2 separate regions of the Homo sapiens genome follow, and region 1 is linked to region 2. The links come from fine-mapping of genetic effects on gene expression. A gene starts in region 2. The other region holds a variant in brackets. All regions are shown on one strand. Distances are from middle to middle.

Region 1 (5,376 bases), 87 kb after region 2:
CCTTTTTTTTTTTTTTTTTTGACTTGAATATAGAGTGTCTGATAAGCCTGTAAGTAGTATCACAAGCAGTATTTCTAGGCTTTCATTGTAAAGTTTAGGGTTGAAATCTGGGTGTTGAAATTTCAAAGTTCCACCCTTTGATGATATAGACTAATTATTCTTTATTATATTTACAGTATGCAGGCATGACACAGGTTTCAAAAGCACTTTCCCATTCTTCTTTAATAATCACAATTATGATCATAACAGTTAACATGCACTGAGATCCTACGATGTGCCAGTCCGTATTCTAAGTACCTTGCATAGATCATCTCATTTAATCCTCACAACCCACCTATGAGGTAAATGCTATAATTATCCCCACTCTACTGAGGAGGAATTAAAGTACAGACAGGTTAATGTGCTCCGAGTCACACAGCTATTGGAAGAGATAGGATTTAAACCCAAACATTTTGTCCCTTAAACTTACCTTCCCAACACATGGCCCTGTTTCTCAATGCATGTGCACTGTCTCTGTTTAAAGTAAGGGAAATCATTTCCTAAGGAGTGATGCAAGTCAAGCTGTTTGCTGGGAGTTCTCTAATATCCTTGTTGTTTATATCTCCTAGGTGTTTTTCCAGGTCTGACCATCTTGCCCTCCACATGAAGAGACATATCTAAAAAACCGAAAGGCCAGAGTTGCCATGGCATCGGCTAGTGTCTAAAGGAAACGCCATGAGGCAGGGGGCTGGACTTCAGGCGGGGACCCATTGCCTCGCAGAAGAAAGTTCTCACTTATAAACCTCTGTACACACACACACACACACACACATATACACACACTCACAGACCCACACACATACACACTGTCATGCACTCAACTATATTTAAAATATATACGTCTATTCTTTATGCCTTGCCCTAGCCAGATGGAAGAAGATGAAGAAGGAAACCAGGTGAACTCAGCAAGGCAGACTGGCTGCTTACTTCAGCACTATTGGAATTATTTCCCGCTGTTGCCAATGGAAATCAAAGAAAATGGATGTGACGTCTGTGCAGGTGGACGGCAGTCCGAGGGGCTTATTTCACTTGCTTCTCAGTGCAACTTGATAGGAGAATCCAGCATCTTAAAGTTGCATATGTGTAGCACTAATGTTTCTTTTTAAATAGTTGGGGGAAAATGACCTAGAAAACCAAATTGCAGTTTGGTAGCCAAAATTAACTCTTGGTTTATTTGTCCTTTGTGTGTGAAAAGTCCTACTATTCCGTGCGTCAGACTTCCTCACAGAACTGTTGACTGGTTTTGGTTCTTAGTACTATTGAGATCTTTCGCGTCGATCCCAACGGCCTTAGCGGCGGCAGACTGGAATAACACCTTACACCTTTCTGGCCTGCATTTCTGTAGACTTCACTCTCAAGGGAGGAGTTTTCTTTTCTTACGTTTTGACTTTTGCACACCATATGCACTAGGGATTCTGGAAACTTCTAGCATGACTGCAAAGTGGCCAAGAGAATAAAGTCCTTGATGATAAATCACAGTATATCCCTTGAGCCTCACCTTATTGCCAGTGCTAGATTTTTTCTTTTTAATCTCTCCGTTTTTGCTAACGAAAACTTGAAAAGCTTATTTGGAAGCTTAAATGTTTTATCTTTTCTCCATGGACTAAACCTCTCCAGGACTCTCTCGGCACCTGGATGTCCAGCTCTCGAAGCAGCCAGTCAGATGGGACATCACAGTTCTCTCATCCTCCTTGAGGCATGATGACCTCAGCTCATAGTGATCAACCGTTGTGCTGTGTGTCATTGCTACCCCATAACCAGTTACAGCATAGATGTCGCTAGTCTCAGAGGGCAGCTGCGTATTTAATTTAACTCTGGTTTATGACCTGACAAAAAGCCAAAAATATCACTCTTTCCAGGAGTGGGGAAAACTGAGGATGCCTCCCAAGTCTAGTGGCTTCACAAAAGATCATCCTGTCTTCTCTGTCATGCCCACTGAGCTCCTATTCCCCTACGTGTTACAATACACAATTTAAAACGCCATTGTGGGAGTGAAGGGTTGACATTTAAGGAAAAGGTTGAGGTGTTTCTCTCATGGGCTGTCTAAAAGGAGAGACACGTTTCTTTCTTTCCTTTTTTTTTTGGCTAGGCCCACCATGACTTGTGACCTAGAACCCCCAGGATTAACAGAGGCCTCACATTTACTCTGCAAGCTGACTCCAAAGGAGTCTACAGTCCTTACTTGTCATGCCACACTCACACATCCAGTAGTGGTCTCTATCTACCCGCATTCCTAGCTAGCTGGCACTGGCCTCAACTCCAAAGACTGCCTTTAGGACCATCAAATGGCCTATGCAAGCAAGCGGGGTGGTTATTAGGACAGATTGTATATTTTGTATATTCTGGGACCATCCCTTCAAGACACGTCTATAAAACAAAAATGGCGCTTGGTCCACACACGGTTGCTGCTCCCTCCTACCAGCTGGCTCCCCTCCTGTCCTCCTTTGACTGTTTGACTCATTGACTGTTAAAATGCCACCCCATACATATTTGGGATGCAAAACTGAAGTCAAAAGGAAATAATATAAGAAACACAAACACATATATGACAGCAACCTTCAAGATCTGGGTTTTCAGCTTTCTGCAACCTTTGTTTTCACTGAAATGTTGAAACTACTCGTCTGAGGGCAAAGGAACCTCCTCACAAATGCTATAGCTGCCAATTGGACACTTGGGGCATTTCGAGGTCTGGCCCTAAGAATTTACTTTCTCCTTTTCCTTTTTTCTATTTAGACCAAAAAAAACAAAAACAAAAACAAAAAAAAAAACAAAATAATACAAAACGAAAAAAAAAGAA[AGAAC/C]ACCCGTTAACACACACGCGCACACACACACAAAATCTGTCCATTTGCCGGAGGCAATTGTATGTATGTTAGTTGGAGGGTATTAAAAATCAGTTTTATTCCAAAGATTTAAAACTAGACATGACTTAAAAACAATTTCTGGAGCACTGCTTGCTGACAATCTCGTAGTTCTCTGCTGCATTTGAGTGCATTTTGTGGCCAGTCCATCAGGGCGTACCATGGGATTATATTTGAATGTGTGGTGCATCCTTCCTGGATGAAGGATGTGTGAGGGACCTTGAACCTCAGCTGTATTAAACTGTAGCGCCTCCAGTCAGTGCACTAGATGAAACTTTTAGACACCCTGAATTCTGTTGGTTCCTTTCTTTTCCTTTATGTAGCAGCCTCCAGCATGAATGCACGCACACGCCAGTGATGGCATTAAGCCATGGCCACCACGATTTGCAAATGTTCTCTCCCAAGCTGGAGCTGCTCTTGCCTCTCGAATGCTATTATTAAGGGTTTATAATACTTAATTTAATTTTCGAACTGACCAATGCAAGGCTCTATTAAAAAGAAAGTTTAAAAAATGCAAAAGAGTAATCATTGCTTGTTTGCTCCCTATTTTCATCTGTGGTCTCATTTGAATGTGGCAGAACAAAGGCCCTTTGGTCCTCATCAGTGTCTGAAATGTTCAGTAATTTCTCTCTCTTTTGTATCAGTGAGGTCCTTTGTAATCTGCTCCTGACCTTTCTTGGAGCAGGGTGCATTGAAACTCAATGGTGGTGCTTGCTTGCTTCAGAGTCATTTGTTGACTGTGAGAATTGGCCTAAGAATTTGGTGGGTGCTAAGTGGATGGCTTTGAAACTGTTCTTCTTTAGCCGAGTTGACACCTGTGAATGATGACCAGTCCTGATCATTTTGGAAATGGATTTGTAATAAAACGTCCATCACCTCTGCAGTGGCAGAGATGGTTACTAAGAGCCGCTAGAGCGAGCAGGTTTTCCAAGAAGTAACCTGAAGACATTTTGCTCCCAAGAGGACTGGTTATTTAAAACAGTGCATTAATGGACATTTGAAACACATTAAACCCCTTTCTCATTTCAGTTGTTACCTCCTAACCCTCCAGGGGATCCCAAATTTGAAAGGAAAAACCCGGCCTGGTGTTTCTGGTGGTGTCCTAACAAGCACGCTTTTATCCAGGGTTCAGATTTGTTCATGTAGAAAAAGAGTTTCTAAGCCACTGACAATTTTTTTTTTTTGTAATTTCAAATTATACTTCTTTCTCCTGCCACATGACTGTAAGTCATAGACATGGAAACCTGAAATTATAATGCTGCTCCTAGCTACTGGCCTCCTGCCCCACCCATGGTTAATGGCTCAGCTCAATGCCTGGTGGTAATGAGTATTATGTCCAGAAAAAGAGATGTTCAGATTCCATGACAAAGCTGCATTTTTGTAAAAATATTGGAGACCCCAAAATGAACTTCATGCTGACCATTTCCTCCTCTCTGTGTGCTTTCCCTTGCAAAGCCCTTCAAATATCCTCTTCTCTCGACGCCATCTCCTCTCCACCTGCACCTCTTGTGCCCTTTGTACATCTTTGATTGCCTGATGATAACAGGGTAAAAGGACAGCCAACCTCATGCCTGATTAGCAGAACTGAATCCTAGTTTTAAAAAATCTTCTCTGGCTTCAGAGAAGATTTTATAAGGACTTTTGTTTGGGATAAGCTTTCCAGATTATCCATGTCTATTTGCATCAAAGGGGAAAGAAATGGGGCTTTTGGATGGCTCTTCCAGTGCATTCGGAACATTGCCTCTTGCCTTTATTCCTGCATTTTATGGCAAAGCCAAAAGAAACTCAAGTTGCAAGAACAAAACCCAGTGACTCGTTTTGATGGTTCAAAATGGTTTCCTTTATGGAAGTCACTTCATAAAATGTTAAGTAAAAAGTGGGAAGTGCTTCTGTCTTCTCTTTTGCATGAGTTGCTTTTAGGAGCAGGAAGAAGGTAGGCAAAGTAAGATAAAGATGCAACACATTTAACTACAAAAATCAGGTTCATTTTTTAGTTTATTAGAATTTTTTTGAAATCTTAAGAGGGCCAGCATTTCTGGCTACAATTTTGCACCCAGAACATTGCCAAAATGAACATTCAGTAAATAGAACCTGATTGAAATTTACTCCTGGAAGCTTTCCTTTGCATTTTCGGGAAGTGGCCACCTGCCAAGCGCAAGAGTTGGGGGGCAGGAGGGGAGGACTCAAATTCAGGGTGTCTGGATTAAATTTCGGTGAACATGGTGATATCTCAGTTTGAAAACTAGAGGGCCTATCCTGAGTATACATCAATGTCTCTTTGATGGCCTACTTTCCTCAGTGAGGATCTTTGGGAATACTTGAGATGGAACAACAGAAATGTGTGAAAGGAAGCAGAAACTTCTTGTAAATAACGTGACCTCCCACGACGAACTGCCTGAGGCTTCAGGGTTTTTTCTTGCTTTTAACACTCTTAAATCTCCTCTGTTGGTTCCTAATAGATCCCAGAAAAGGGAAAAAT
Region 2 (5,376 bases):
TACAAAGCTTGGAGCAAAGACCATAATGAGGTTTGCAGTATTTGCTTTGTAAAATTTTGGTTGAGTCCTTTTGCAAGTCAGACGGCTGATAGTTACATAGGAAAAGTCTCAATGGAAGCCTCCTCCTCCGGCCCCACCCAAGCAATTTTTGTAAACACACACTGACTTAAAGCTGAGGAACCCCATTTTTCACCATACAAAGCTCAGTACAGAACAGTGTGGGGAGTCAGATGCTCTTGGATTTGAACCCCTGCTTGACCACTTCCAGGTTGTGAGACCTTGACCAACTTACTTAGTATTTCCAAGCGTGGGTATCTTCATCCATAAAGTTGGGGATACTTTGGGGCTGTCCTTAAGATTAAATGAGACATTGCATATAAAGTGTTTATGCGCATACGGCACATTCGAAGTGCTTAATAAATGGGAACTATTATTTGTAAAATCTTCAAACTCACGTTAACCGATATGTCCTATTTTATTCAAAAATTGTTATAATGTAACACACACAAAATAAGTTCACTTGAGTCTCAAGTACCAAATTATATGGTTGGTCTTGCCTCACCTTTTGCCTCTAGTTTTCTATACCCAAGTTCCTTTCCTTCCCCTATTATTCATGAACATGTTTTTTGCCCTAGTGTTTCTCAATGGTTCCTGCCCATCCCCCCAGTTGAAATAGCATGGGGGTCAGGGGAGAGCATGGAGAAGGGGAGACCTTGTAACAAACTAGCAAGGGGTTTCTACCTTTCCTCTATCTCCAAGATTCTATTAATAGTATATTCTCCTAAAGGTCCTATTAGTTTACATAGCTCAAGTGGGGAGACAATGATAGCTAATATTTAGTATTCACCTAATAGTGTCAGATACTATGCTAGGTGAGTTACCAAAGATATTTTGACTCTTCATAACAACTAGACAACGCGGATCCCACTATTTCTGTTTCTGAGATGGGTAGATACAAGTTCTGACCCAGTAATTCGCTCAAAGTCGTGCAGCTAGTTAGCTGGCAGCGTCCTTGCACATCTAATTGCAGATGCATCTGCATCTACATTAGAGTAAATGTTCCAATTATACTCATACAATGAATGCTATGAATCTGGCCAACAGAATTCCAGACACTAACAAGTAAATAAATCAGGCTTTCCTCAATCCCAGTAATTCATGTTTAATATTCCTTGGCAAATACTGAATTTCAATCTGTGCTTATTTCATAGAGTAGAATCTTTCAAATGTTGTGTTATCGAGTCCTACATAGTCAAAGGGAGGGGAAAGACAAGGAGGGTGATTAAGGTGAAGCGTTTCTTCCATTACTGGTAGAACGAAGTTTCTCATCTCTTAAGCACCGAATTCTGCAATCATTCCAAAAGTGGAAGCTCAGCTCACAGCGCATTTTGGGGAAGCTTAAACCACACTAACCATTTAAGGTCAAGCAAACAATTGGCCAACCCTAACGTGAATTGTGCAGGGTTTTCATCTCAGATGTAACAGATCTCTCTATGTCTACATCCCAACTCCAGAAAACGAGAAATCGAGTTCCTCCTCTCACCATCGAAGCTCTGCAGACACCTCGCTGGAGACCCCATGGTGAGCCTCATCACGTAAAGGCCCCCTCGCAAGCTGCCGGCTCCAGCTTGCGCCCCACGTCTACCTAGGCTCCCTCTAGCCTCTTTAACGCACAGTCGAGCAACAGGCCCCTTGCAATCAACTCTAGCCGCCGGACTCCCGACCAGGTCTCTCGCTCGGGGTCAGAAGGAGGCGCGGGAGGGAGGGCGGCGGCGGCGGCGCCCGCGGGGCGGGGCGGGGACTGTGCGCAAGCGGGGGGCGGGCGCAGGCCGCGGTCTCGCTCCGCTCCCCTTTGTTCTCTCCCATTGTGTGGCACTTCCTCCTCAGGCGCTTCTTCTCTGCACCCTGGCAGCCCGTGGGGAGTTCGGGAAGGGGCCCTGGATGCCTTTTCTGCTTGTTTTTGAGTACGTGAGGACCTCCCCGGCACCGCCTCGCGCGGGTCCCTGCCCCGTGCCCAGGCGGAGGCGGGGTGGCCACTGTCCTTCCTTCCCGCTCCGCGCCCTCGGCGGCTTCCCCGCGGCCCCCTGCGCCGCGCCCCCTCCAGGAGGCGTCCTGACCCCGCACTCCGGCCTTTCACCTCCCGACCGTCAGCCTCAGGGCCGCCGCGGCGACGCGCGACCCCTTCCCTCTGAGGGGCGCGGGCTCCGGACGCGCCGGGCTCTGCCAGGCATCTAGTGGAGGGTCGGAGGTCGGCGACCAGCCCGAGCCCAGCCGTCCCGGGAGCTGGCGCGAGTGTCGCCACGACCCTCCCTGTCCCTTGCGCTCGCGCTGCCCGGCCGCCGGGCGGCCGCCTCAGCCCCCTTATATAGCCCTCTAAAAATAGCTCGCCTCGCACCGCCTTGTAAGGCAGCAGGGAGATCCGCAGCGTGCCAATCCGCGCCCGCCGCCAGGGCCAAGCCCCGCCCCAGGCTCTGCTCCGGGCTCCCCATTGGTCCTCAGTGACTTCATGAGCCCCCTGTTTACCTTACATGGTCACACGCGGCCTAATGGACGCCCTCCTCGAGATCCCACGGCTGCGCGGAGAACCGAACGGAGGGAGGGAGTTTGGGGAGGGGGAAGAGCAGGAGGAGGAGAAAAGGGAGGGGGAAGACTACAAACTAGCAAGGATGGGGTGGGGGGTGGGGAGGGAAGGGAAGGGGGGGGAAGAGAAGCGATCGCGAGAGAAAAAAATGCAACCTCCCAAAATAAAGAGCAAAGATTGCATTAGGAGCGAACAGCGCTGCAGAAATAGATGGCAGCTTCGTGTCAGTGAGTTTGCATCCCCCTTCCTGATCCACGAGCTGGAGTGATTAGAGCCCTGGAAGGGAATTGTTACTCCCGTGGAGAAGTCCCCTTTTCCTGGCAGTCGTCTGCACTGTACACGCTGGATGCCTCTCTCCATCCACCCCACTCACTCGCTCCTCTCTCACCTCCTCTCTCCCTCTCCTGCATTGATTTTTTTTTTTCCTTTTTAGTTGACTGAAACAAAACAAAACAAAAGGGCCACTGGATGTCTGCCTTCTTGGGGGGTGAGCCAGACAGACTGACAAACAAACAGCCCCAACTGTGTTCGGGGGAGGGTTTCGCCTCCCGTTTTGCCCGGCAGCAGCAGCATGGACGTGTTGGCTAGTTATAGTATATTCCAGGAGCTACAACTTGTCCACGACACCGGCTACTTCTCAGCTTTACCATCCCTGGAGGAGACCTGGCAGCAGGTGAATGATTTAAATTACTTGTGTAAATCGTGTGGTGGCGGCGGAGACGCAGGGGCTGCGTTGGTGTGGGCTCTGGGTTGAAATTTTTGTTTGTTTGTTTGACTTTTTTTTCTTCCTTTTTGGCTGTCTGTTGTTGAAAATGTTTTCTGAAACAGTCATCTGCGCTTACCTCTCCACCCACCCCTAACCTCGTAGAGTGCCGAGCTGAGCAGCCGGTGCGAGCTGCCTGCGTTTCAGTCGCCAACACACATCCCTGCGCACACGTTGTCGGGTTTGCTGTCCCCTATCAGAGACCTGCCGAACTTCTGGGGTTCGGAGGAGCCGGGTGGGAAGGTGGTTTGGGGTGTTAGGAGCGATTGCTGACAGGGACCACGTTCTCGCATGCATGAGCTCTACCCACTTGATACCTGAAATCAGGTTCATCTGTTTCAACTGGTGCTTATGACCATCGGATGGGGGGCGGGGGAGGGTGGGCAGGAGCAAAGCGGAGTGTTTTTCAGTAATTAGCGAGTGTCAATAAAGAATAGGAGCTTGATTTTGAGATTAGAAGGTAGGCAAAAGAGAGAAGAGCCCACTGACAAAAGATACTCAAGGAGGACGGGAAGATGTAGCTGAGGCTGACAATGAATTGTAGGTTTTCCCAGTGTGATCCCTCCAGAAAGAGAACACCCTCTATGCGTGTCCTTGTTTCTCTTTTTTGTTTAGGGTCCTTCTCTAGTTAGGCAGCACAACCTCGGACAAAGGCTGATGTGTGCTTCCATGCCTTTGACTTTGTCTTAGAGGACTAGTTAAGAAACTCCCAGGATGCTGAAGGGCACCGATGCCAAGTTGGCTAGCCGTCCCAGGGAGGATGAAGTGGGGCTGGTGACAAGTTCACTGGGCTTTGTGAAGTGGAATAAAGAAAGTGCTGGTCAGTGGAAAGTGCTGGCTCTGCTGCGGAAACAGTGGTTTTTTTCAGCAGCGATTAGGAGCTGCTGAGGGGACATTCTGCAGGAAAGATGGTGGGTGGGGGCGGGGGGACACGGGTATTTAAAAATTGTACAGTGTGCACCATGGAAAGTCCAAGAAGACAGTCCGGATTTGCACATAGGAAGTGTGAACTTGTACAGTCCGTCCTGGAGAAACCCGCTTGCCCTTGGGGGGAGGGCTGTGAGAGGCTCGGTGTGTGGCTGCTCGTGTAATTTCTTCGCTTAGTGACAGCAGCTTGTTAAGGCTAATGAACGGCTGAATTTCCTCTGCCGGGATCCAAAGCAGGATTTGCCAGCTTGAGGCTGAGATGTAACAGTCTCTGCTTTAGCAAAAGAGGTTTGGCTTTTGGTATAAGGAGCCGAGTGGCAAGGCGGATCCTTTAACTGTACCATTGTTGCTAGTTCACTTCTGGTCAGAGGCTGTGAGTTTTCCTCCAGGTATTGGCGTCTGGTGTCTCTGTGTCCACACATGCATTCTTGTCCAAGGACGCTAGCAGATGCTTGACTCTGTCTCTCTGTAAACACATACACAGTTCACATATTTTTAGAATAAAGTCTTTCTTCAATGCATCCTTTTCCTTATCCTTAACGAGAGTGTGTCTCATGAAGGGTCTCACTGGATCTTTTTCTTCCTTTTATTTCCAATGCTAATTAAACCAAAATCTTCTGAAATAGCCTTCATTTCACACTGTCAGCCCACTGGTATGGAATCGGTTGCATATTAACAACTGTCTAGACAGGTTAGAGAAGGGAATCTGTTGATTTAGTCAGCCTGCCCAAGGCAGCCCTTGTTTGTGACTAACTGTTAAGCAGTGTTAGAAGGAAGAAAGTTGGCTTTATTTGTTAGAACGTTCCCTACTGATGAATCATGCAACTTTGTTTTGGTTCAAGTTTTCAGAGTAGTAAAGCCAGATTTGGAGGAAGGTCTCTTCACAGGAAACCTGCTTTTCTAGATCTGGCTAGACCATCCAGGACAAACTCTAGATCTGCAAAGAAACATCATCGGTTTGACAACTAGAGGATGTATTAGATCTATTGTTTCCTAAGAAGCCATCTCTGCTCTTCCTTCTCCCCTCCTCCCCCTGCTCCTCTGCCTCCTCCCCATTCAGGGAAGCTCTAGTTTAGTTTCTACAGGCAAAGGATTTTTCACCCCT

Evidence for each region. PIP is the estimated chance that this variant, and not a neighbour inherited with it, causes the effect.
Region 1: its variant is fine-mapped to the expression of KLF7 in whole blood (INTERVAL, PIP above 0.99).

What each region holds. Positions count from the first base shown.
Region 1 is chr2:207,076,497-207,081,872 of GRCh38, reverse strand. KLF7 (KLF transcription factor 7) reads left to right here. Exons shown (of 4, transcript NM_003709.4): 4 at 609-5,376. The coding sequence ends at 660. Among named protein-coding and RNA genes, the nearest start is that of MIR2355, 31 kb to the left of the region's middle. The variant AGAAC/C (reference allele first, on the strand shown) is at 2,837.
Region 2 is chr2:207,163,345-207,168,720 of GRCh38, reverse strand. KLF7 (KLF transcription factor 7) reads left to right here and starts at 2,773. Exons shown (of 4, transcript NM_003709.4): 1 at 2,773-3,254. The coding sequence starts at 3,153. It overlaps MIR7845 (microRNA 7845), which reads right to left and starts at 2,321; the gene lies at 2,223-2,321. RefSeq lists silencers at 1,262-1,311, 1,932-2,571 and enhancers at 929-1,637, 1,638-2,345, 2,346-3,054, 3,062-3,161, 3,763-4,471 and 1 more.